Homo sapiens: one gene and its partners. The protein of the gene in region 1 binds, or shares a complex with, the protein of each later gene. Each region holds a gene or a part of one and is shown on either strand. Other genes may lie near its edges.

Region 1 (5,324 bases):
TTTTTTTTTTTTGAGATGACATCTCACTCTGTTGTCCAGGCTGGAATGCAATGGCACGATCTCAGCTCACTGCAACCTCTGCCTCCCGGGTTCAAGCGATTCTCCTGTCTCAGCCTCGCATGTAGTTGGGATTACAAGCGTGTGCCACCACTCCCGGCTAGTTTTTTTGTATTTTTAGTAGAGACAGGGTTTCACCATGTTAGCCAGGCTGGTCTTGAACTCCTGACCTCAAGTGATCCACCTGCCTCCGCCTCCCAAAGTGCTGGGGTTACAGGCGTGAGCCACCACACAAGGCCACTTTGCCTTCTTAATGGATCATAAACTAACCCCACCCTCTACCAGACCTGGCTGAGAAAACAATTCCTAATATCATAGCTACAGTAGGGAAATTTGGTCCTTTCATGCTGTTTGGAGGTGTTTAAATATAGGTTTCATCATTGGATGACACTATTCTTCAGTCCAACACTCAATATAACAGGATACAAAATACATCAGCCGTATTAAAGGGAAATCATTCATTTATTAAGGATCGCAAGACAACATCTTAATTTCTGTAGTACGATTTAAATGTTTTACTTCTTTGATAAAGCAGAGTACAATAGAAAAAAAACAATTAGTTTCCAGTAATATCTATATCTCTAATCAGAATTAAGTCTTCCAAGACATATTACCTGGAAATAAAAGCCTGTTACAATAAGCAAAGCTTCAACCAGAGCGGCTACTTTTCGTGCCAGGAAAAAGTTCATCCCTATAGGAGGAATGATGTGCTATGTAAAATGGCTGTAAGGTCACAGCCTTGAGGGCATTGGAAGTATATTATCCTATTCCACATTAAGTATTTCAGCGAATTTCAAACATCAGTTTATCTGCAACCATGCTGGCAACCTTTAACTGATATTTCAATCAACCGGTAAAAAATAAATTAAGAAATCCCTTCACGGATATTCCGTGATTTACACTGTTAAAAGGTACACTGTTCATTAACATGTAATTCTGGTTCAGAATTACCTTTGAGACTCCTTGCTCAAAATTTGGTTAACAGTAAGAATCTTCCAGAAATTCAAGTTCTTATTAATCAATAATTTGTCAGCTAGGATACATTCAGGCATCAGCTGCAACTACAGAATAGGTGCACAGCCTCAGCGCTTTGGAAAGACATAATCTAGAACACTACTAGCAGACAAAAAATTACCTGCAACTGGATAGCGTAAGTGCAGTATAGCGAGACAAAACATATATTCATATGTTGGCTTGTTTAAGCCTCAAACCCTCGACCCTTTGTTGAGATCCCATAATTTTATTCCTATGATTTTAATAACTCAAGTTCCAGGAGGACTATAAGTCTAATTTGTACTCCAAACCAAACAGCAGTGCAGTTCGCTACTACTGAGGCTGAATCTGTACAGACTTCAAGACCAAGTCCAGAAGACAGTTATTATCTAAAAAATAATTACTTGAATACATAGATGATCCTTCAGAGATTTTACCTATAACCTATTTCTTGATGAAGGTTATTTAATGCACTGGAGATAACTGTGACTTACTGATCAAATACTTGAATACTTATACTTACCTGGGATTTCATTTCTGCTGAAAGAAATAGGAAGAACAGGACTCACTTAAAAAAAAAAAAAAAAAACTTTAGAAAGGAAGGTAAAAATCTTACACACACTATCACTTTTGGAAGCAGCATAGAAGGGGCAGTCAAGGGTAAAACACTGGTGAAACAGGTCAAAATTAGGAAAAAAAAAAAAACTATATTATTATCAATGACAGTACCACAACTGTGCCCTTGATAATTAGTAATCACTCCTAAAAATCTTCATTTGGCACCAGATGGTGTGTTTAAAACACCCTAGGATGTTTTGAATCAGGCTTGATTTTGTTAGTTGAGTTACAGGAGAATTTTAAGGGTGAGGGTATGGGGGTCAGGGAAGAAAAGGAAATGGGAAATGGACCAGAAAAAATCTTGAGTCATCATCTAAATCAACAAAGCACTGATAGCTCCAAATATTAGGTCAGACACTAAAACGACTGATATAGGCTCAAGTGGTTTATAAAACCTATAAAAAGACTACACCAGCAAAGTCCCTGTCAATCTGTCAGAGTTCAGAAACTAAAACAGGGAGTAACATTTTAGCTTAAAACCTTATCTCAAGAGAATCATATACACTTCACATGAATAAAAATACCTGAAACCAAACATTTTTAAAAGCTCCAGTACCCAAAATATAAAGAAAAAAAAATCCAGAAGACTGAATCAATCCATGGAATCACAAAGCGGCCGGACAATCTATATCTCCCCTCCACACTAACCATCCCATGGAAGACCAAGGGAGATCAGACCTTCCAGACCTATGCACCATCTGGTCGCCGCAAAATTCTACGGAGATTCCTTGTGGAAAAGCAGTTTCCCATCTTTTGTGTCTCTCCCTACCATGCAGGAAGCAAGTCTGGCTGTGCTATTCTATTACCATTATATATCACCCATCTGCAACAAGGTACTGTACAGACAAGTAAGAAGTATGTTATCTAGTTCCCTTTCCCCCAGAAGGTTGAGGCTCAGGTATAGGGGTAATTCTCCTGTGCAGTCTTTATTTATGCTGACTCAGTGACTTCAACAGGCTTAATCATGTGGTCAGGTTTGTTGCCAGCTGCATAATGCTCCCACATCTGTAGATAGAGCCGCTCTAGTTCCATTGTGTATTGTTTGGTGTTGAACAGAGGGCTAGATATTCTTTGCTTCCAGACTTTGCCACGAACTTTCTTCAGGCTGGGTAATAAAAAACAAGAACCCAGTTTACAAATCAGAGCAGAAACTCAGAAACACACCCTATAAATACCTAGTCGCATTTGTGGCAAAAAATGCATGACCAAACTCTACGCTATCTCATTTCTTGATTGGCTTCGTGCTAAAAAGGGAAGGGTCACATCTTGCATAATGCTAACACTGAAATGAGCTCAACTCCATATACTCTGAAAAAACTTAGTTCTTTCCTAAACAAGTATATCCAAGGGATACCACGCGTTCTCCATTTCGTCTTGTTTCTACCTTTAAAATAACAAGAATTGACAACGGCACATGACTATTCCTATGTACTGTTGCTTACCTTTTTGGTAAGCAATTTAGCAAGTATGTATTAACCTTAAATGTTCATAACCCTCTGGCCTAACAGTAACACTTTAAAATCTATTAAAAAGAAATAATCAGATGCAAAAACATACAGGACCATGCAAAGATATTCATTGAAGCATCATTTACAAAAGTTAAAGCATAAACATAAGATGAAGTATTCGATTTATGGTCATTTTGATGAAACAGAAAACCACTCAAGGGGAAAAGAAATACAATAAGTCTACTCTCGTAATTTTCCACTTGTACCTGAACTGAGTTCAGATTTTTAAAAATTGCTAATATCACCAAGAGTATGGTTCTGTTCAGAAAAATAAAAAAGAAGTAATTGATTCTTCAGGAAACACAGGGGAAAAGATTTCTACTTCCCTTTTGAATATATTTTTCATGAGATTATTCTTAGATGAAGGGATAAATACTTTAGAACCAGAAGCCAGAACATTTCTGTGCATTTTTAAAAGCAATAATTTTTATTTATTTTCTTTTAATTTTTGAAATAGAGTCTCACTCTGTTGCCCAGGCTGGAGTGCAATGGAACGATGATGGCTCACTGCAGACTGAACCTCCTTAGCTCAAGCAATCCTCCTGCCCCAGCCTCCCGGGAAGCTGAGACTACAGGCACGCATCACCACACTCAGCTATTTTTGTATTTTTTGTAGAGATGGGGTCTCGCCATGTTGTCCAGGCTGGTCTCGAACTCCTGGGCTCAAGCAATCCTCCTCCCTCAGCCTCTTAAAGCGCCGGGATTATAGGCATGCGCCACCACGCCCAACTTTGTTTTAATGTTTGTTGTGACAGAAGCAGTAAAATGGTTGTGCATATCTGTTGGTCTCAATACAACCATGTCCATATTAATGCTACCCTCCAAAGAGAAAGACCTGTGCACTCTATTTTTTTAAAATTCTATGCCAATAGGAAAATAAACTGTAGTGCATTCATACAGTGAAATACTACTCAGCAAAAGAAATAAACTTGATGAAAGAAGCCTTTAGAGTGCATATTGACATAGTTCCATTTGGATAAAATTCTAGAAAAGCAAAACTAATTTATGGAAGGGAAAAAAACCCTCCAGAACAGTGGTTGTCTCTGGGGGTTGGTGAAAAAGACTGACTGATAAGGAGCATGAAGAAACTCTCTGGAGTGATAATGTTTTTTGTCTTCATAGGAATTTGGGTTACAAAGGTATTTCTCGGTTGGGCACTGTGGCTCACACCTGTAATCCCAGCACTTTGGGAGGCCGAGGCAGGTGGATCACAAGGTCAGGAGATCAAGACCATCCTGGCTAACACGGTGAAACCCCATCTCTACTAAAAATATGAAAAATTAGCCGGGTGTGGTGGTACGTGCCTGTAGTCCCAGCTACTCAAGAGGCTGAGGCAGGAGAATCGCTTGAACCCAGGAGGCAGAGGCTGCAGTGAGCCAAGATCACACCACTGCACTCCAACTTGGGCGACAGAGCAAGACTCCGTTTCAAAACGAAAAAAAAAAGGGTTATTTCTCAAAACTCACTGAATATTTGTGTATTTCACTGTATATAACTTCCGCCTCAAAAGAAAAAAATGGCCAGGCGCAGTGGCTCACGCCTGTAATCCCAACACTTCAGGAGGCCAAGGCAGGTGGATCACTTGAGGTCAGGAGTTTGAGACCAGCCTGGGCAACCTGCCAAAACCCTGCCTCTACTAAAAATACAAAAATTAGCTAGGTGTGGTGGCTCATGCTTGTATTTCCAGCTATTCAGGAGTTTGAGGGGAAGACTGCTTGAGCCCGGGAGGCGGAAGTTGCAGTGAGCGGAGATCGTATCACTGTACTCCAGCCTGGGAAACAGAGGGAGACCCTACCTCAAAAAAATATATGTGTACTGAACTCCAGTTAATGACAGCCAATCTTAAGTATTTAAGGAGAAGTGTACTGATGTCTGCAATTTATTTCAAAATGTGTCCAATAAGATGGATTGGCAGATGAATAAAGGGAATAAATGGATGAATAGATATGTAATAAAGCAAGAATAGTAAAATGCTAATGGTAGATTCTAAGCAGTAGGTATAGATGTGTTTATTATAAAATTAAAAATTTTGAGAACAAAAATGTTGAGGAAAAGCATTGTATGAACCAAACTAAGTACCAAAGAGTCTAATAAAAATTTTAAAATGCACCACAGGCTGGGTGCAGTGTCTCACGCGCCTGTAATCCC
Region 2 (5,563 bases), on another chromosome or scaffold:
ACTGTAAGCCATTCTGTGCCCATTTCAGTTCTTATAGAAAGTAATCTTTTGCCCTCCTTGTCATAATGCAGTATAGAAATAGACAATTTCTAGCATAGGTACCTCAACCCTAACTGAACTTCTATTTTAATCCTGCTCTAAGATTCAGTGTCAAAACGATCTTGACAATACCTATCTATGTCTATCTTAGTGATCCAGCATCAGGCCCAATTTCTCTATGTTTTAAGTATATTCCTACCACTAGAGAATTCTGAGATGGTATTAGCATTATTTTTTTAAAAATAATTATTTAAAATTTAAAAATATAGACACAGGGTCTCACCACATTGCCCAGACTGGTCTTGAAGTCCTGAGCTCAAGTGATCCGCCTACCTCAGCCTCCCAAAGTGCTGGGATTACAGGCGTAAGCCACCACGTCTGGCAGAGATGGCATTGGCATTAATCGTGAGAAATGGGAGTGGGTGTAGGAGACACAGAGTGGAGGGTAAAAAGAAGAAAGATATTTGGAACTGATGGGCTTTAATAAGTCCTGCCCCTTTTCATTTACTTCTTCCTTCAAAGCAAAACCAAAATGAGCTACTGAAGATTTATTTACTTCTTGGGATGGAAGTATCATCTGTCCCAACTTCCCTTTCCCATCAGAGACAGGTCCCCAAAACCGCGAAAAAGAAACTATATTCTCAAACAAAACATGCATTCAATTCAGGTGACTGTTTGATATTTTCATAACATTTTCTTTAACATTTAATAGAAACTATATACAATAAATTTTTACTATATTTTACATAAGATAGCAACCACAGAAATTTACATAGGTTAAAAGCAAGACGGATAAGGAGGACCCAGTCCTGTGGGCTGTTTTCTCAGAGGATAAAAAGCCAGAGTTCACCAGGGAAAGGGGTTAAAGACTGCCCAATTAAGTAGAGGTGAAGAAAAGCTAAACTGCAGGTCTTCAGATAGAGATAACCGATATTAGGGCCATCAGTATCTCAAAGACACCACTCACAAAGACAGCTCCCACCTAGCTACTTAAGTGGATTTCTATCCATGACTTGGGAAATCCCATTACAAAGATGTCACTTTCCTTTTAGGTATAGTCCCAAATAATCCCAGAAGCTTTGATAGGGATTATCTCTCTTTCTCTTCCTTGCCCTGAGTGGGAAGAAACCCACGGTCCACGTCCTCAAAATTTGGCTTTACGTTTGACTATAATACTCAATCCAGAAGAAAAACAAGGTAGTCTGGGTTGCCTGTGTTTTGTGAGAGATGATCAGAAATACTTCTTTGAAGAACGAGAAATTTAAATCCACCAAAGTAAAATGGTTCCCCAAACTATCAACTAATAGAAGTGGGTTCTGGCTTCCCATTTGCAGTAGCCAATCCACTCTGAGACAATGGTGCAGAGGCTTTCTCAGAATTTCGAGATCCCTGGGATCTGCACCCATCTCCAGCCATCTGCATCTGGCCCTGTTAAAAGAAATAAAGGCACTTCAGTTAGTAATTCATTCACTGTGGTCTGAAGTATGAATCTGACTTATCAGTGGCCACTTAAACTAGCAATAAGAACAATACAACAGAAATTAATTCTGGACAGATGCTCTTCCCATATTAGCTATCCTAGTCCCTTGGAAGAGCCTATTCCTGAGCCTCTTCCAATGGGATGGTGAGCTGTAGGTTGTTTCTTCCAAATGAAATAGCCATTCCCTACTGAGGTCCCAGAACAGCCAACAGACCACAGGAAGACAGTCCTTTAGGCCTCTGCTTGAAACCAACAGCCACAGTACAACTGCTGGTCTTCAGTCAGGGCCACTGGAATTCTACCCAAGGCTCACGGACAGAACTCAAATCACATTACTTTACTGGTCCTTCTACAATGAGAACAATTTCAGTGATGAACTCTCCCTCAGAAGGTATGATTTCCCTAGATTCCTTGTCTCAAGCTTTTATTTAAATAAATGTATGTCCTACTCTGGGATATGAGGATCACGGGCCATTAGGTGTTCTAAGAGCCCATCTGGAGAACTACAGCAACAAGGGTACACAGGAGCAGAGTAGGGCATTTTTAAAAGTGCTTTGCTTATATGGTATTCAATAAGTGAGAGACATGTGGAGCATCTTTATACTAGTGATGACACCCCACTCCCCTCCAGGAGCACATGCTATCTAGCAGGGAACCCTCTGCCTGGCCAGGTCACTACATGAGGGAAACAGGTGGGACTGTTCTTCACTTGCCAAAATATCCACTGGGTCTTCAGCAATTTCTTTGACTAAATGATCTTCAAGGGTTAGTGAAGGATCAAAAAGCAAAGGTGAAGGAGGACACTGCATACCATCACCCACAACATCCAAGTCCTAGAAAAAAGAGAAAAGCCCATCAGCAATACCAAGGGAAACAGTAATAAAGTTGGCATGTTTTTCAGCAAACTTTAAAGCAATACTCTGCTGTCTCCCTCAACCCTAGCCTACCTTTAATAAAAAAAAAATTTTACAAGAGCGTCCAACAAATGAAACAAGATCCAAAAGCACTGAGAGCTTTTGCTGCCAAGTGTAAAACATAGACCAATACAGTAGATTAAAAAACAAAATTCTGGCCACCACACCTCTAATCCCAGCACTTTGGGAGGCCAAGGTAGGCATATCACTTGAGCCCAGGAGTTCAAGACCAGCCTGGGCAACATGGTGAAACCCCGTCTCTACAAAAACTGCAAAAATAAGCCAGGCGCGGTGGCACACACCTGTAGTCCCAGCTACTCTGGAGGTTGAGGTGGGAGGATCCCTCAAGCTTGGGACGCAGAGGCTGCAGTGAGCCGAGACTGCACCTCTGCACTCTAACCTGGGTGGCAGAGCCAGACCCTGTCTCAAAAAAAAAAAAAATTCTAGGAAAATTCACAGAAACACAAAGTAGAAACGGAGAATAGTAGGGAACAGGGGAAAGGGAAAGGAGAGAGTTACTGTTTAAAAAGTACAAAGTTTCTGTTTGGGTTGATGAAAAAGTTCTGGAACAGAAAATGGTGATAGCTGTACAACATGGTAAATGTTCATAACACCACTGACTTGTACACTTAAAAACGGCCAGGTGCAGTGGCTCATGCCTATGATAACAACACCTTGGGAAGCCGAAGTGGGAGGATCACTTGAGGCCAGGAATTCAAGACCAGCCTGGGTGACACAGCAAGACTCCATCTCTACCTACCCACCTACTTACACACATACATACATAGGTTAAAAGAGTAAAATTTTGTTATGTATGTTTTACTACAATTAAAAAAATATTTTTTAAAAAAGCATATTCTCTGAGGCTACCTGTAATGAACATGTAAGTTCACCAGTGATTAATTTAAATATGAACAATGCTACGTTAAAATTAAATATTGCTGGGTAATACAAGATTGCCTGATTAATATCCTAACAGCCACAAAGCAAGCAAACAAGCTCCAACAAGGGAAAGGGAGAAGGTAGGAAGAAAGGAAGGACAACAGAAAACTCACAGTTCCTCTGAATGGCTAGGAAATATTATTTTGGTTAAGTCCCTATCCCGACAGAGCAACAACCTGGTTTTTTTTGTTTTGTTTTTTTTTTTTTTGAGACAGAGTCTCGCTCTGTCGCCCAGGCTGGAGTGCAGTGACGTGATCTCGGCTCACTGCAACCTCCGCCTCCTGGGTTCAAGTGATTCTCCTGCCTCAGCCTCCCCAGTAGCTGGGACTATGGGCGTGTGCCACCACGCCCAGCTAATTTTTTGTATTTTTAGTAGAGACAGGGTTTCACCATGTTAGCCAGGATGGCCTTGATCTCCCGACCAGTGATTGGCCCACCTCAGCCTCCCAAAGTGCTGGGATTACAGGCATGAGCCACCACGCCCGGCCAACTCCCTGGTTCTTAAGCCTAACATAGTTTTGCTCTGTAAAAAAAAAAAAAAAAAAAATGACATTACATTCTAGACTATGTTTCTTCCAACTGAATTGGCAATTCGCACTGGAATACTGAATAGCCAACAGACCACAAGGAAGACATCACTCTTAGCTCCTGTTTGAAACCAACAGCTACAGCAAACCATTGGTCTTGATTCAGGGCCTAAGGCAATACAAACTCAAACAATATATCAAACTAACTTTCATGCCACTGCTTTTCAAGAGTCTGGTGCTAAATTCTCCTTCTTCCTAAGAATTAAAAATATCCAGGAGGTTTGTACCCCCCTATGTTTAATCCAGTTTATAGATGCTCCGTGTTTCTATTCATCTAGCTTCACGAGAAGCTTAGTTCTACGCTTTTAAATAAATCTAAGAATTTGCAATCCTTTCCCATTTGTTGGTGTGCTAATCACCAAAAATGAGAATCACAACATCTTCACATTAAAGAATATATATAATTTTAAAATCTACTTAAAGCTGCTCAGGCCGGGTGCAGTGGCTCACGCCTGCAATCCTAACACTTTGGGAGGCCAAGGTGGGCGGATCATGAGGTCAAGAGATTGAGACCATCCTGGCTAACATGGTGAAACCCAGTCTCCACAAAAAATTACCAGCCTGGCCAACATGGTGAAACCCCATCTCTACTAAAAATACAAAAATTAGCCAGGCGTCTTGGCACATACCTGTAGTCCCAGCTACTCAGGACACTGAGGCAGGAGAATTGCTTGAACCCAGGAGGCAGAGGTTGCAGTGAGCCGAGACTGCACCACTGCACTCCAGTCTGGGCAACAGAGCAAGACTCTGTCTCAAAAAAAAATAATAAAATAAAGCTGCTCAATTTAAGCAGAAACATAGGGCACAGGATACACTCAACCTACCATTCATTTTCAGGTGAGTTGGAAACTTCTGTACTACCCACAGAAACCAGTGTTCTCACACCATTAAGACTATAAATCTGTTTTCTCCCATTCTTTTACTATGTGCAATTTGTGTGTGTGTGTGTGCGTGCGTGTGTGTGAGACAGAGTTTCACTCTTGTTACCCAGGCTGGAGTGCAATGGCAAGATCTTGGCTCACTGCAACCTCCACCTCCTGGGTTCAAGCGATTCTCCTGCCTCAGCCTCCCCAGTAGCTGGGATTACAGGCGCGTGCCACCACATCCAGCTAATTGTTGTATTTTTGGTAGAGACGGAGTTTCACCATGTTGGCCAGGCTAGTCTAGAACTCCTGACCTCAGGTGATCTACCCGTCTCGGACTCCCAAAGTGCTGGGATTACAAGCGTCAGCCACCGCACCCGGCCCATGTGCAATTCTTACATAAACAATTAGCTTGGAATGGGCACGGTGGCTCACGCCTGTAATCCTAGCACTTTGGGAGGCCAAGGTGGGCGAAACACTTGAGGCCAGGAGCTTGAGACCAGCCTGGCCAACATGGTGAAACCCTGTCTCTACTAAAAATACAAAAATTAGCCAAGCACAGTGGGGCGCACCTGTAATCCCAACTACTCGGAAGGCTTAGACCGGAGAATCGCTTGAACCCAGGAGGCAGACAGTGCAGTGAGCCGAGATCACGCCAATGCACTCCAGCCTAGGTGACAGAGCGAGACTCTGTCAAAAATAATAATGACTAGCTTGGAATTATTTAAACACTGAATC
Region 3 (7,035 bases), on another chromosome or scaffold:
ACCTCAAAACACAAGGACATCTCCATAGGGCATCAACATGCATCTGTCATCCAAGAATCTAAGAACTTCCTGATCCTTCCACATTTTCTATCAATAATATTGCCTTCTGAGGTTATGGATTCCAGGTCTTCTATGAAATAGGTAAAGCTTCCTTTCGCGTTCCAAGAAATATAGTTTGCGAAGGGAACTGGAAAACGTGACTCTAGGCCTCAGCCACTTCCTCTGTTACCCTGTGCAAGTTGTAGAACAATCCACGTTCTCACAGCTCCCCTTCTTCAGTTGTGGAGTTCTTCAAGGTGGACAGATCACACCTCAGGAAGTCATCCCTTGTAAGCACACTAGAATTTATCATAAAGGCAGGTCGGCTTGTTAGTTTTTCTTTGTCCCCAGCATACACTGAGCCAACAACTTAAGTCATGAATGGGTTGTTTAGGGCTCTGTCTGTCCTAAATGATTCCTAAAAGCTTCATATAGCTCATATAGTCTTATTGTCCACTGCTCTTTTGGTGTGGTATGATCCTACCTGTAAAGCTATCAAACCCCTGGGTCCTGGATGCCTCCTCCAGATTTCATACCTTCCTCAAGTTTACTAAATACTTTCTGAATTTAAGAATTTTGAGAAAGTCACCTACCAGCTAATGCAAAAACACAGCCTAATTCTGTGTGAATCCCTGTTGAGATCAGCTTTTCAGGTCAGGGAGGGAAGGTATGGGGTTTAGGGTACCCTCTCCTATCACACACATCCCCCCTGCCCACAGTACCCTGACCTACCTTGCCTGAGACTCCTAGACACTATGAGCTCCCTTCTGGCTGCCACTCAGACTGGCCAGGAAGGCTCCCAGATTGAACACAGGTGACCTGGTATAGATACACACTGTACTGTGGGCCAGAACCATGGACTACATTTTAAGCCATGTTGTGGGCCCTTCCTGCCTACAGAAAAGGACACTTGAGTGGAGTCACACTTGGGTTGCCTAATTTATTACCTTAACTAGAAACATTCTAAGTATGGGAGCCTGTTCTGGAGGATAGCTTCTAAACCAAATCTAAAACTATCTTTGCACACAAGTGTTGTGAAGAGGTAAGCAGGGGATCAGAGCTCCATCTTCTGTGACCACTTCTCCAGGGACTGCCACCTATAGGGCTCAGGTTGGTACCAACAGCCCTGCATAGTAGAGTCACTGTCAATCATCTTCCCACTTGTAAGCAGGAAGACAAAAAGTCTCATGAAATAGAAACGAAAACACTGAAGCATGGCCTTCATCGTCCTAATGCCACAAGTTTCCTGGGATGGCCAAGATACTACCTTAGCTTATTGTCCCTGCTTCACCTCCAGAGACTGGAGACAGAGGATTTTCCGGGGTTGGGGTTTCTTCTCTGACTTGGCAAATTCTTCTTTTTATCTCCAGCTGAACCACCAGTTCCTTGGGTAGCAGAGCAGAGACCTAAGCACAAACCACAGGGCTTACTAGCACATCCTTCAAGCCACTTCCTTTGCTGTTCTATTACTCTTCTTCAGCTTATCTGAACCTGCGGACTCTCTGGATACAGAAACTGCCCAAAGCATGGTGAAAAAGACAAAGGGCCCAGGTTTCACCTGGCAACCACTGCTCCCAACATCTAGAGTAAGTCAAAGAGGCTGAAAGATGACAGCCTAGTTCTCTTTGCCTTCATTATGATACTAACAAAAACCAGAAGTTTCCAGGAGTCAGCAAGCTACTCAGTATCTGACGTGGTTTCTAAGGTGGAGTTGCATGGGGAGCACTCTCCCGTGGCTGCTGAGTGAAGGCAACAGTGATGTCCAAAACAAGCCCGTCCGGCTCTGAACCACCAGTTGGCAGGCCAGGATGACTCCAGTCTTTAGCAAAGAGCTTTCCATTCTAACTCCCGAAATCCCAGACCAGATGGATGTCTCCTCCCAACTAGGCGCAGAGGGTAGCACAGACTTCCAAAAGGAAACACCTTCATTAAATGCAGCAGGCAGTCCTATATGCTGACCCTTGGGTCAAACCACAGCTTAAGCGGGGGAAGAAGTGGTTCTGATCCATGTACAGCCAGATCTGCTGAGGAGTCTGGGGTTCCCAGGAACCAGATTTGCAGATCCTGGACGATGGTGCTTCCCTTGCTGGCACCGTATCACCTAACCTAATGGTTTCTCTGAAGACAGTTGGCGGAGAGGCAAAAATGACTGTCTTAAACAGGTCTTCCGACACGTGGACAGCTCAGCAGGACCACACACCTGTCCAGGGCCCACCATGAGGCAGCCATCACCAACTTGGTAAGGAGGACATATCACACAGCATCTTCAGGGTGCTGGAGGCAGGCGCTGTGGCAGGAGAGGTAGTGAAGAAGGGTCAAAGCTTTGACAGGTTATCATCATATTCAGACCCTCTATCCCAATTATCCCAACTCCTGAGAATTTATTTTAAAGAATTAATTCTCAATAGGAAAGAAGTTGGATACACAAGGACACATGTTCTAGCTGCCAAGTGGTTAACAGAACATGGACTCTAGAGTGAGAGACTCAACTTTCCACTTTTTAAGGCAAGTGCCTATGTTCTCTGAGCCTCCTTTTCCTCGCCTGTAAGAGGTAGATGACAGCATCTACTTTCCAGGGTCACCGTAAGGATTAAATGAAATAATCCACATAAAGCTCCTGAGTTTAATCTGTGCTCAACAACAAAGGTCACCTCATATTATTACACATGAAGACAGAAAAGGAATGCAGAAAAAAGGAAATAGGTGAGTTTTTAAGGGCAACAGAACAGAAGGGAAGATTTCCGTGACTTCTGATTTTGAGGCCTTAGACATGTAGGTGTGGGGGGATGCCATCAATGTTGAGCCCTGCAGCTTAAGAATAAGGAAGCAAGTAGAGAGGGTGGCCTTTTTTACCAACGCTTTCCCCACTTTTCTAAATTTCCCCCTTGGGAAACTCCTAAGAGGTCTCTGAGAATGTAGTAAAGGAGGGAAGGCCAGGCGAGGTGGCTCATGCCTATAATCCCAACACTTTGGGAGGCCAGGCAGGAGGACTGCTTGAGCCCAGAAGTTTAAGACCAGCCTGGGCAACTTAGCCCATCTCTACAAAATTTTTTCAAACATTAGGTGAGCATAGTGCTGCATGCCTTATAGGCCCAGCTACTCGGGAGGCCGAGGCCACAGGATTGTTTGAGCCCAAGAGGTTGAGGCTGCAGTGAGCCATAATCACACCAATGAAGAGGAGTTTGACAATCAAACCTCATGACTTCAATCCCAGCACTTTGGGAGGCTGAGGTGGGAAGACTGCTGGAGCCCAGAGTTCCAGACCAACCTGGGCAATATAGCAAGACCCCATCTCAATCAAAAACAAAAACAAAACCTCATGGGCTTCCCTGCCCAAAGGCAGGGCTGTACACAGATGATCACTCTGTTCTGATTATGAATACACCTTAGAGTGAGCCAGCTTGCCCACAGCCTGCTACAAGGCTACAGTGAGGCCCACTGCCAGAGGCCTCCAGCTAGAGGTGCTGCTTGCCAGGCTGACAAGGTCCTGGTATGGCCAGCAGGACAGAGAGGAGAGAGAACTTATAACCACAGGCAGGGAGTCCATTTTTTGGACCCTGATGCAGGGCACAACATAGTCTCTGTCTGTCCTCTTCCTCCCTGCAGCTTCTCAGCTGTGATGAGTACACAATAGTCCATTCCCATGAAGGAAACACATAGTAAACACCAATCAGTGCCAGAAACAAAACAGATAATTAAGTGCTTATACAGATCTTAGAGAAGTCTAGTTGGTGTTCACTTTTCTTTTTAAATTCATTCCATCCAAAAATATTGCAGTATGGAACCCCAAAATAAAAAATGACTGTTTTAAAATCCTAACAATACCATTATCACACATTAAAAAGGTTAACAATTCCGTAATATCAACAACTATCCAGTCAGTGTTAAAATTTCCAATTGCCTCATAAATGTCAAAAAAATGGGTAGTTTGTTTCTAAGCATTAAAAAACGTCGGTTTCCAAAGCCTGAGGAGATTCTGATCCTGCCACCACAACAGTCACTGAATTAAGTCAACTTCCTCTCTAAACCAGGTAAGAAAACCAAAGCCCAGAAGGATAGGTGATTTGCCCAGGATCACACAGCTGGCTGAAAACAGATGACCTGACCCATAGTCCAGTGCTCTGTCTGGCAATCTGAACAGAGCTATTAGAAGCTTCTGAATCAGCAAGAAGCCTTAATCTAATAACATCCCCTTGCTTGTTGGAAAAGAATCACCACCTGACTCCTCCTAGCAATTACATATCCACTTTATTTTATTTATTTATTTTATTTTTTTGAGACAGAGTCTGGCTCTGTTGCCCAGGCTGGAGTGCAATGGTACAATCTCAGCTCACTGCAACCTCCGCCTCCCAGGTTCAAGCAATACTCCTGCCTCAGCCTCCCAAGTAGCTGGGATTACAGGTGCACGCCACCACATCCAGCTAATTTTTGTATTTTTAGTAGAGATGGGGTTTCACCATTTTGGTCAAGATGGTTTCGATCTCTTGACCTCGTGATCCACCCGCCTAGGTCTCTCAAAGTGCTGGGATTACAGGCGTGAACCACCATGCCCAGCCTACGTCCATTCTATTAAGATGAAAACTAATCTCATGTTAACATCATCAGTTAGAAGGCCAGACCTTGATCTTTATTCTGTGCTTCAACTGAGCTCCAGAAAAGGGGGATTCTCAATGACCTCTACTCTCTTCTCAATGGTAACTGGCTGGCCCAGGCCATGGCAAGCTGAGACGGATTACCTAACACAGGAGGAAGGGATCACGTGGCAGGATCTGTGTTCTAGTTGTCCATCAACATGGCATCAGCAAACGAAGACACCCTAAAAACAGGCCCAAATGGCTTTGTAGGTCACTTCTATCAACCCATCAAGGAACTATCATTTCTGTACTATAAAACTGTTTTAGAGTATGAGAGGGGAAAAGCACTTCCCATCTCATTCTACAAGGATTGAATTACCCCTTTTACATAACTAGACAAAGGAAAGCACACACACAGAAGTAGGGGGTGGAGGGGAAGAAAACTATGGGCCAAAGCCTGAGGAGATTAATATAGACGCCAAAATCCTAAGTAAAATAAAAGCAAATAGAATAGACATGCTTTTCTTTTGAAATGCTTAGCTTCTTTCTTTTTTCATTTCGTTCTTTTGATAGGGTCTTGTTGCCTTTGTATGTATAATAAAAAGAATAGGACACACTGAAAAAGCCACTGCATCTAGAATTCACACAGTTTGATATTAGGAAACCTATTAAAGTAACTCATCATTTTAACTGATTAGAAGGAAACGTTGGCCGGACATGATGGCTCACGCCTGTAATCCCAACACTTTGGGAGGCCAAGGTGGGTGGATCACTTGAGGTCAGGAGTTCAAGACAAGCCTGGACAACATGGTGAAACCCTGTCTCTACTAAAAATAGAAAAATTAGCTGAGGGTGGTGGCATGAGCCTATAGTCCCAGCTACTCAGGAGGCTGAGGCAAGAGAATAGCTTGAACTTGGCAGGCAGAGGTTGCAGTGAGCTGAGATCGTGCCACTGCACTCCAGCCTGGGTGACAAGAGTGAGACTGTCTCAAAAAAAAAAAAAAAAAAAAAAAAAAAGGAAATGTTTATCCTCATTCATTTCATGTGATTCTAAAAGAATAATGGAAAAAATTCAAAACTATCATGAGAAAGGAAAAGAATGAAGATTATCTTAGCAAACTAGAAACAGAATTGACACTCCCTTAACTTCAAGATCCATACTATCAACCCATAACAGAAGGCCAGCGTAGGATAGACAAATTCAAAACTACAGAACAGGCCCATATGTGTTCAGTACTTTAGAATGTGACAGCAGTGGATTTTAGATGAGTGGAGGAATGATGAATGGACTCATCCTTACCTCACTTAACATACAAAAGTGAACTATAAGGAATTAAAGGAAACAAGCAAAAGCATTATAAGAAAACACAAAGAGAGAGTTTCAATATGGGATGACAGAAAAGTTCTGGAGATGGATGGTGGTGATGGCTGTACCACAATGTGAATGTGCTCAATGCTACTGAACTGTAAGCTTGAAACATGGCTAAAATGGTACATTGTATGTTATATATGTTTTACCACAATTCAAATTTTAAAAACAAAAAGGATTACTTTTATATTCTTGTGATAGGGCTAGCTTTCTTAAGGCATAAAACTTTGGAGCTATAAAGGAAAATATTTGAAGATTTTACTATATGAAACATTTAAATGGCTGTATGATCTAGAAATAAAAGTTAAAAGACTGACTGACATTCAATGAATGCTTCAATAGAAAGAAAAAAAAATATGAGCCACTGACAGGAATAACATATATGTAATTTGTGTAACAGATAAAGATTTAACATCTGAATATACAAAGCCACTATAATTCAAAGAGTATGACAAACATTTCATAAAAGACATAAAACTTCTTAAGTAATCAGGAAAATGCACATTAAAACAATTTCATTTTTCACCCAGATTAATAAAGTTAAAATTTTGATTTCCACAAAATATGAAACATATTTTCATCACCGTGGCTAGAATTGTAAAGTAGCAAAAACTTTTTGAAGGGCAGTTAGTGAGCAGCTGCCCAGATATTAGAGGTACACATCCTCTACTTATTCTCTGGCCTGGAGAAATGCTCCCAGAGGTACACAAGAATAAACAAGTGTTCACCAGAGCATTATTTAAAATATCAAAAACCAAAATAGAACCCAGCTATCTACCTAACAGAAGGTGGTGAAATACATCTTCATACATCTACTCAGTGAAATACTAGCCAGCCTCTGAAAAGACACAGACAGGGAAACGTGTCACGACATGATTTATAAAAAAAGGCAAGTTACAAAACAGTCCATACTCTGTAATCCCATATTTGTACAAAATAAATAAAATAACATACTTTGTGTAGAAAAAAAAATTTGAATGGATCCATATCAGGCTATTAACAGTGAACATCATCTCTAGGAGTAGCATCATGGGAAACTTTCCCTTTCTAAAT
Region 4 (6,868 bases), on another chromosome or scaffold:
GCACCAAAGTCAAATACGAATGTTCTGAACGTGGCTTTCAGAAAAGATGCAAGAAAACTTCTAAAATACTTCACTTCAGTGGACTCATATAGATGGAAAGACCGAAAATCCCACCCTACCATAAAGGCTCTAATAATTCTTAACTGATCATTCTTTTAACTGGTCACAATCACAGACACTGGTATATACTCAAATGAGGTGGCCATCAGTGACAACCATCTTCACCATAATATAGACATTAAGAACCTTTGTAACATTTAATGTTTCCCTCCAAGTAGTTCAAAAAATAAAAAGTCAATCACCTCAAATTATGAGGTACTAACAAATACACCAAATATGCTAAAGGTCGAAGGAACGGCACACTTTGTTGCATAAACCTAGTGGAAATCCAATTCAGAATTTCATGACTGAAGGTAGTTATTCCACATTTATAATACATTTTTTAAATTCCCAAGGGATGAGCATTTTTACCTTGCCTTATTTTTAGAACTACACATCACACTGCACATATCACATGACATGATGTAACTGTTAGCAAAGAAAATGGTCCAAACCATTGACAATGTACATGGTAAATCAGGATCAATGCATACTCAAGAACCACATTTCGTATTTACTTTAAAAAAAAAGTTTCTTAATTCAAAATGTTTTTTCAAATTGAAAAAATGTCTAGTAACCTATGTAGAAAAAACCAGAAATGTACTTCGTATTTTATAAAATAGGAGTTTACCCAATTATGGGAAAAACTGATATAAAGAAACAGATAAAGGAATAACATACTTCTAAAACTACAGGATTAAAAGTAAAAATTTTCTAGATCAACACCGAAATGCTAATAAATACACTTAGCATTAGGCACAAAACAATTACTACTCAAAAGTATTCACTGTTGATAGGTTAAAAAAATAGTTTTAACTGACAACGCCTGTAGACAATTGAAATTTTCTAAATTGGTCAGACAGCATGCTAGAAAAGGAACCAAGTAGAGCCTATAGGAAAGGGGAAAGGGAAAACACACCCACTTAAGCCTTTGTAAATAGTGGTCCTTTAACTGACCCAAAAAGCAGAGAAAACAGAAATTACAGACCATCCTGACAAATGGAAAACATATTCTAACGTACTAGTTTCCATACTTGAAAGGACTTTCAAAATGAAGTTCAGTAGCAATCTATAACTATATCATGATTATGCAAGGCAAAGATTATGTAATTTTATCGTTTATTTTAAAATGTTCTCCGACTCTAAAACTAAAACAAGTAAAACGTTTTGATCTCTCCAAAGCGAAAAGGAAAGGTTCCTCTGAGCTGCAATTTAAAAATATAAACACACACCCCAAAACAAACAAAAAAACACAATGATTGCTAGCCACGTGACAAAGGAGATGGCAACACCAGGATTGTGAATGGAGGGGAGGGAGGCGAGGCTGGAGGAAGAGAGATTTCTCGGAACTTTGGGGACCGCGGCAGTCGGTCTGCCGACCCTAGGAGCACTAAACTCCAGCCCCTACGAGTTGTGCTTCTAACACCCTCAAGTACAGTTTTATTAATAAGTCACAGAAAATGCTCCAGTGACCTCCAGGATAAAGGGGGGTGGGGGGGACCGAGGAAAAGGAAAGAGAGCAATTTAAAGTGGCGCCATCATGTCACCCCTTCTCCCCTAAAGCAATCAGTAAGCAATAGTTAAGTAGCACGTTTCTCTATAAATCCACATTGGGATTCCAACATTGGAAAACGAGGATTTTTAAGTAAGACACGGGAGTAGCGCTGTTTATCGTATGGAAAACAAACTATTTGCTAAGAATCAAAAGACCGTCAGCCGGAAAACAGGCCCCCAAAAAGGCAGTTAAGATTCCAACTCACTTAAAAGCAAATAAATCCCTCTTCCTCTTTAGTTTAAAAAAAAAAAAAGTCCGCCTGAGGGAGACTACATCTGAAAACGTAAGTGACCTGAATTTACAGGCAACAAAAATAATAAATGAAACAATCAGAGTTGTGATACAAACCGTGCAACGCGCCAAGATGTGTGTTTCGAGCAGAGAAAGGCCTTTTGCAGTCAAGAGAAGTTCAAGGCGAGAGCCAGAGTTTGTTTGGGGGGTTCTTTTACGGGAATAAATCATGTTCTTCAGGCCGCCTTTTTAAATAGAACGCCAAAGGAAAAGCTGGCGAACGAGGCGGCAGCTCCTGGGGAAGGGCCCCCGCACACCCCCGCCCTTGGGGCGACTCCCAGCCCGGACCCGCAGCAGGGAAGCCCGGAGAGGCCATTTAAAGTTCCGGGGGATTTTTCTACCCTGCCCTGCCTTTCTAGTTACAACTAACAAAGAGAGAGAGAAATGGGAGCCACAGGGAGAGCGAGGAGAAGGAGAAAGGGCAGCAGGAGGAGGAGGAGAGGAGCAGCAGCAGCACCTACCACGTGATGGAGGAGCGTAGCCCGGGCGGATTCAGCCCCACAAAATGGGCGCAGTTTGCAAACAGCCCCCCGGCCTGGGCGCCGAGGGCCAGCGGCGGGCGGGGGCGCGCGACGGCGGCTCCGGCCCGGGCCCGCCGCTCTCCTCCCCCCGACGCCCGGAGCCGCCCTGACTTTCCGGGCGGGGGGGCGAGGCAGAGGGGGAGGGGAAGGCGGCGGCGGGGAGCGGCTGCTTTTTCTTCTCTTTCGGGCCCTTTCCCGGCCTTGCTCCGCACCGACGGGGCCCGAGCACGGCTGGAGACCGCAGCCCGGCCGGGAGGGCGGGCGGGCGGGGGCAGAGAGTGAAACCGCCCCCCCGCCCCGCACAAACAAGCACCGCCGTCTGCAGCCCGAACCCGCACCCAGGCCGCCACCCCCGGCCGCCTCTTTCCAGCCGGGGAGCGCGCTTCAGCCGCCCCCCGCGCCGCCGCGGCGAGACGAGTCGGCTTCGCTACGGTGCTCGGTTCTCCCGCCGGCTCGGCGAGCGGTGGCGGCGGTGGCGGCGGCACTGGGAAAATGGCGGCCGAGCTCCTTTTCCCTCCCCCCCTTTAATCTGAAGCGGAGGGAGAATGGAGCGAGCGAGCAAGCGGGCGAGCGCCGGGGACACGGGGAGGAGGGACAGCAGCGCCTCCGCCGGCTGCGGCTGCGGCGGCGAAGGGCCGCTCCACCCCGGCGCGCCGCCAGGGGGCGCCCGCCGCGCCGCCCCCGCGGGCCGCCAGGAGGCGCGGCCGCCGCCGCCTCAGTCATGGCTCCTCGCCGTGGCCGATGTTTTTGTACCTCCATCTGCGGAGGCCGCGGCGCCCGGCCCCAGCTGCCCCGGACGTGCGGCGACGGCACGCAGCACTGCGGCAGGGGGAAGCCAGCCCTCGCTGCGGCCGAGGTGAGTCTAACCTGAGGCACTGACGCCGTCACATGCCCTCCGTGCTGGGGCCGGCGGTGCGGCTCGCCAGTTGAGGGGCAGGGCGGGCCGGCGCCGCGGAGCGAGAGGACGTGAGCGAGGAACTGTTTGCACTGTGTAGTAAAGAGGGTAAGGCCGTCGGCACCACACTATTCCAAGGCTAACCCTGCAGAAAGCTCCCTGACCAGTGAAGCGGCTTCCGCCGCCCGCCCTTTGTCCCTAGCAGCCAGCCTCCGTATACTGCAGCACGGCTGGGCACTAGCCCCAGCACCGCGCTCCGCAGCCACCAGAGTTGGGCGGGGTGGGGAGGGTGCACGTAGTCACTGCGCAGGCCCCAGCCAGGGCCCGCGCCGGGCCAGCCCGGGAAGGGACAGCCGGGAGCCAGAGGGGAAGTGATGGCCCCGCCGGCGCCGGGCCCGCTGGGAACTGTAGTTTTCGTGAAGAAACACGCGTCTTGTTTTGGGTGTCATGGCTTGGCAGATCCGCCAAAACAGGCAAATGGCATTACACAATGAGTATTTATGCTTCCTGCCGCCACCAAAAGGAAGTTCACTGCCATGCTAAAAGTTTAACAAAGAACTCCATAAAGAAACACAAGTCTCACAACAAAAAGCCAACTTCCCACCTCGTTACCAGAGTTGGTTTAAAGTGGTGGCACCTTATCATTTCTCATGACCAGTTTATCAGTACAGAACTTTATATTGTCCCCAAAATAGGACCTTTAAAATAATGGAACCTTTCCTAGACTTAAAGAATTCATAAACATAATGTAATACAAAGTGTCACACAAAGTGTAATTCTACCACCCTTTAAAGTTGCCAAAAGATGAGTGGAGTATCTTGAGATTTAAAAGACTAATCTAGGATTCATCAAAACTGGCTTAAATGACTGAAGAAAAAATCGTTCAAATCATTAAATCATCAAATTCGGCAGATAAGAAGGGTATGTATGCTCTACTACCAAAAAGGAAGACGCAAAATGCTTCACACTTTTTTGTGGCTTACCAGAACCAATATCCGGCATTATACGTCACTTCTGCTTATCAAAAAACACCCTCACAGTCGTTACAGAACGGTTTTAGTCTTCCCACAAAGTTACACTAACTCACCTGCCCCTGCAACATCTGCACCTAGGTTTCTGCGAATTTCCATTTGTACTCCTAAAATCACACTCTCAAGCATAGTCATAGTTCTCAAATACCAAAGGCAGGCAGTTTGGAGTCATAGGGTCAAATTACACAAAGAATAAACTAATATTTGTATACACATCCAAAAGAGGTCTTTAGTCTTGGATTTTTAATTTACAACCCTGGGGAAAAACTTTGACTTTTTTATTGTACACACATACACACATAAATAGTAATTCCACAAAATACAGTAGAAGGGTATTGGACCAACAGATGGCGAACTAGAGCCCCAATCTGAGGCTCCTGAAATCTAAATTAGCAGAATGAAAAATACCAAATAAGGCAAAGCCCTTTGCAGCGTATACTTAAATATTAAATTCAGACACACCATAACAAAATAATCTTACTGCTGCTCCAAATTTTTAAGACTGAACTGTCAGATTTAATTAGGCAACCAAATAAGCAAGATTATATGAAATATATTTTTCTAATGGATTAGGAGAAAACTGGAAAATGCTCATTTTTAAAACCATGTATTTGGGGGAACTATAAATTCCAGTTTCCCCTTTCTCTCATTGCTTAGTGCAAGAGTCAAGAGTTCACAGGGTTTATGGCACTTAAATCAGTCAACCTGTTGTATATTCTTATCTAAAATCAGACATCTTTCTTATTAGGCATCCACTTGTACTTTTATTTTTTTGACAGGGTCCTGCTCGGTTGCCCAGGCTAGAGTGCAGTGGTGCAATCAAACTCACTGCAGCCTCCCAGGCTCAGGCGATCCTACCTCAGCCTCTTGAGTAGCTGGCACTACAGGCATATGCCACCATGCCCAGCTGTTATTTTTTTCACTCCTTTTTGTTTTGGTAGATACAGAGTCTCCCTATGTTGCCCAGGCTGGTCTCGAACTCCTGGACTCGAGTGCTGGCATTACAGGCATGAGCCACCACACAAAAATCTTATGAAGAGAAACAAATTTTCTTAAATTTCCCCCCAAAAAATAGTGGATGTCCAAAAGGCTGATTGAAAACACCTACATACAAAATAAAACAAACAAACAAAAAAAGATTTAAAGAAAAAGGCCTGGTGCAGCAGCTCACTCCTGTAATCCCAGCACTTTGGGAGGGTGAGGTGGGAGGATCACTTGAGCTCCGGAGTTAGAGACCAGCCTGGGCAACAGAGTGAGACCCTATCTCTACAAACAAAATTTTAAATTAGCCAAGTGTGGTAGCATGTGCTTACAGTCCCAGCTACTCCAGAAGCTGAGGGGATTGCTTGAGCCTGGGAGGTCAAGGCTGCAGTGAGTCATGATCATGCCATTGTAGTCCAACCTGGGCAACAGAGCGAGACCATCTCAAAATGAAAAGTGATAAAAAAATAAAAACACCAACATATTTCAAATCACTCTTGGAATAGTCATGTTGACTCTCCAATATCCACTCTATTCTGATTAGTTTTAACCCATTCTCTTTGCCAATGATTGGTTAGGAATGGCCATGAGATGTGAGTAGAAGCCCCCTGGACAGCCTCCAAAAGAGAACTGTGAGAAAAGGTTCTTCAATCCTAAAAATGATGGAGGAAAAAACAGTCCCTCTTCCTCAGACAGTGACACCTCAAACTGCTACAGTCACCTTTGCAGCAAGCCTGAAGATGCCACCAACATCAAAGGGAATAGAGAGTTGGTCCTTGGTGATAGCATTAAGCCACTGTATCAACCAATCCTGACAATTTGTATGACTTCTGGATTTCCAGCCACATTACAACAATGTAACAATAAACATTTATTAATTGCTTAAGCCAATTTGAGTTAGGTTCCTTATATAATAAATGAAGTCAAAAAACAATGATTGAGTTCTAATGTTTTTTAGTATTTGTATCTTACTTTATGATTACAGTATTTTATATAACTAATCTTATTATTTCTTCCTCAGAAAAGACATTCCATGGCCAGGCATGGTGGCTCACACCTATAATCCCAGCACTTTGAGAGGCCAATGTGAGAGTATTGCTTGAGCCCAGGAGTTTGAGAACAGCCCAGGGAAAACAGCAAAACTTCATCTCTTCAAAAAATAAATAATAAAAAAATTTAGCCGGGGGTGGTGGCATACACCTGTAGTCCAAGCTACTCAGAGGCTCAGGCAGGAGGATCACTTGAGCCCAGGAGGTCAAGGCTGCAGTGAACCATGATCACGCCACTGCAAACCAGCCTGGGCAACAGAGCAACACCCCGTCTCCAAAAAAAGAAAAAGAAAGGAAGGGAGGAAGGAAAGAAAGAAAAAAGGAAAAGGTGTTCCCTCTTACACACAGCTCTGTATCCATCCATCTTTGTCTGTGTTCTCTCTACCTAGAAAAAGAGGACCATCCCTCATTACCACCATTCCTTGTTAATTCCTCTCTCCAATCCA

The links.
Region 2: OGT (region 1) and KANSL2 share a complex: the UniProt entries of both Homo sapiens proteins name them as parts of the NSL complex.
Region 3: OGT (region 1) and KANSL3 share a complex: the UniProt entries of both Homo sapiens proteins name them as parts of the NSL complex.
Region 4: OGT (region 1) and KANSL1 share a complex: the UniProt entries of both Homo sapiens proteins name them as parts of the NSL complex.

Annotation. Positions count from the first base shown.
Region 1 is NC_000023.11:71,571,069-71,576,392, reverse strand, and holds the end of OGT (UDP-N-acetylglucosamine--peptide N-acetylglucosaminyltransferase 110 kDa subunit), read right to left. Parts: intron 2,774-5,324; coding exon 2,599-2,773; 3' UTR 501-2,598; downstream 1-500. UniProt on the Homo sapiens protein: Catalyzes the transfer of a single N-acetylglucosamine from UDP-GlcNAc to a serine or threonine residue in cytoplasmic and nuclear proteins resulting in their modification with a beta-linked N-acetylglucosamine (O-GlcNAc).
Region 2 is NC_000012.12:48,652,709-48,658,271, forward strand, and holds the end of KANSL2 (KAT8 regulatory NSL complex subunit 2), read right to left. Parts: intron 4,075-5,563; exon of another isoform or gene 3,940-4,074; intron 2,353-3,939; coding exon 2,233-2,352; intron 1,823-2,232; exon of another isoform or gene 1,674-1,822; intron 1,468-1,673; coding exon 1,336-1,467; 3' UTR 503-1,335; downstream 1-502. UniProt on the Homo sapiens protein: Non-catalytic component of the NSL histone acetyltransferase complex, a multiprotein complex that mediates histone H4 acetylation at 'Lys-5'- and 'Lys-8' (H4K5ac and H4K8ac) at transcription start sites and promotes transcription initiation.
Region 3 is NC_000002.12:96,593,306-96,600,340, forward strand, and holds part of KANSL3 (KAT8 regulatory NSL complex subunit 3), read right to left. Parts: exon of another isoform or gene 6,821-7,035; coding exon of another isoform or gene 6,761-6,820; exon of another isoform or gene 6,348-6,760; intron 4,856-6,347; exon of another isoform or gene 4,776-4,855; intron 2,327-4,775; coding exon 2,306-2,326; 3' UTR 1-2,305. UniProt on the Homo sapiens protein: Non-catalytic component of the NSL histone acetyltransferase complex, a multiprotein complex that mediates histone H4 acetylation at 'Lys-5'- and 'Lys-8' (H4K5ac and H4K8ac) at transcription start sites and promotes transcription initiation.
Region 4 is NC_000017.11:46,190,417-46,197,284, forward strand, and holds the start of KANSL1 (KAT8 regulatory NSL complex subunit 1), read right to left. Parts: upstream 3,014-6,868; 5' UTR 2,407-3,013; intron 2,367-2,406; exon of another isoform or gene 2,003-2,366; intron 1-2,002. UniProt on the Homo sapiens protein: Non-catalytic component of the NSL histone acetyltransferase complex, a multiprotein complex that mediates histone H4 acetylation at 'Lys-5'- and 'Lys-8' (H4K5ac and H4K8ac) at transcription start sites and promotes transcription initiation.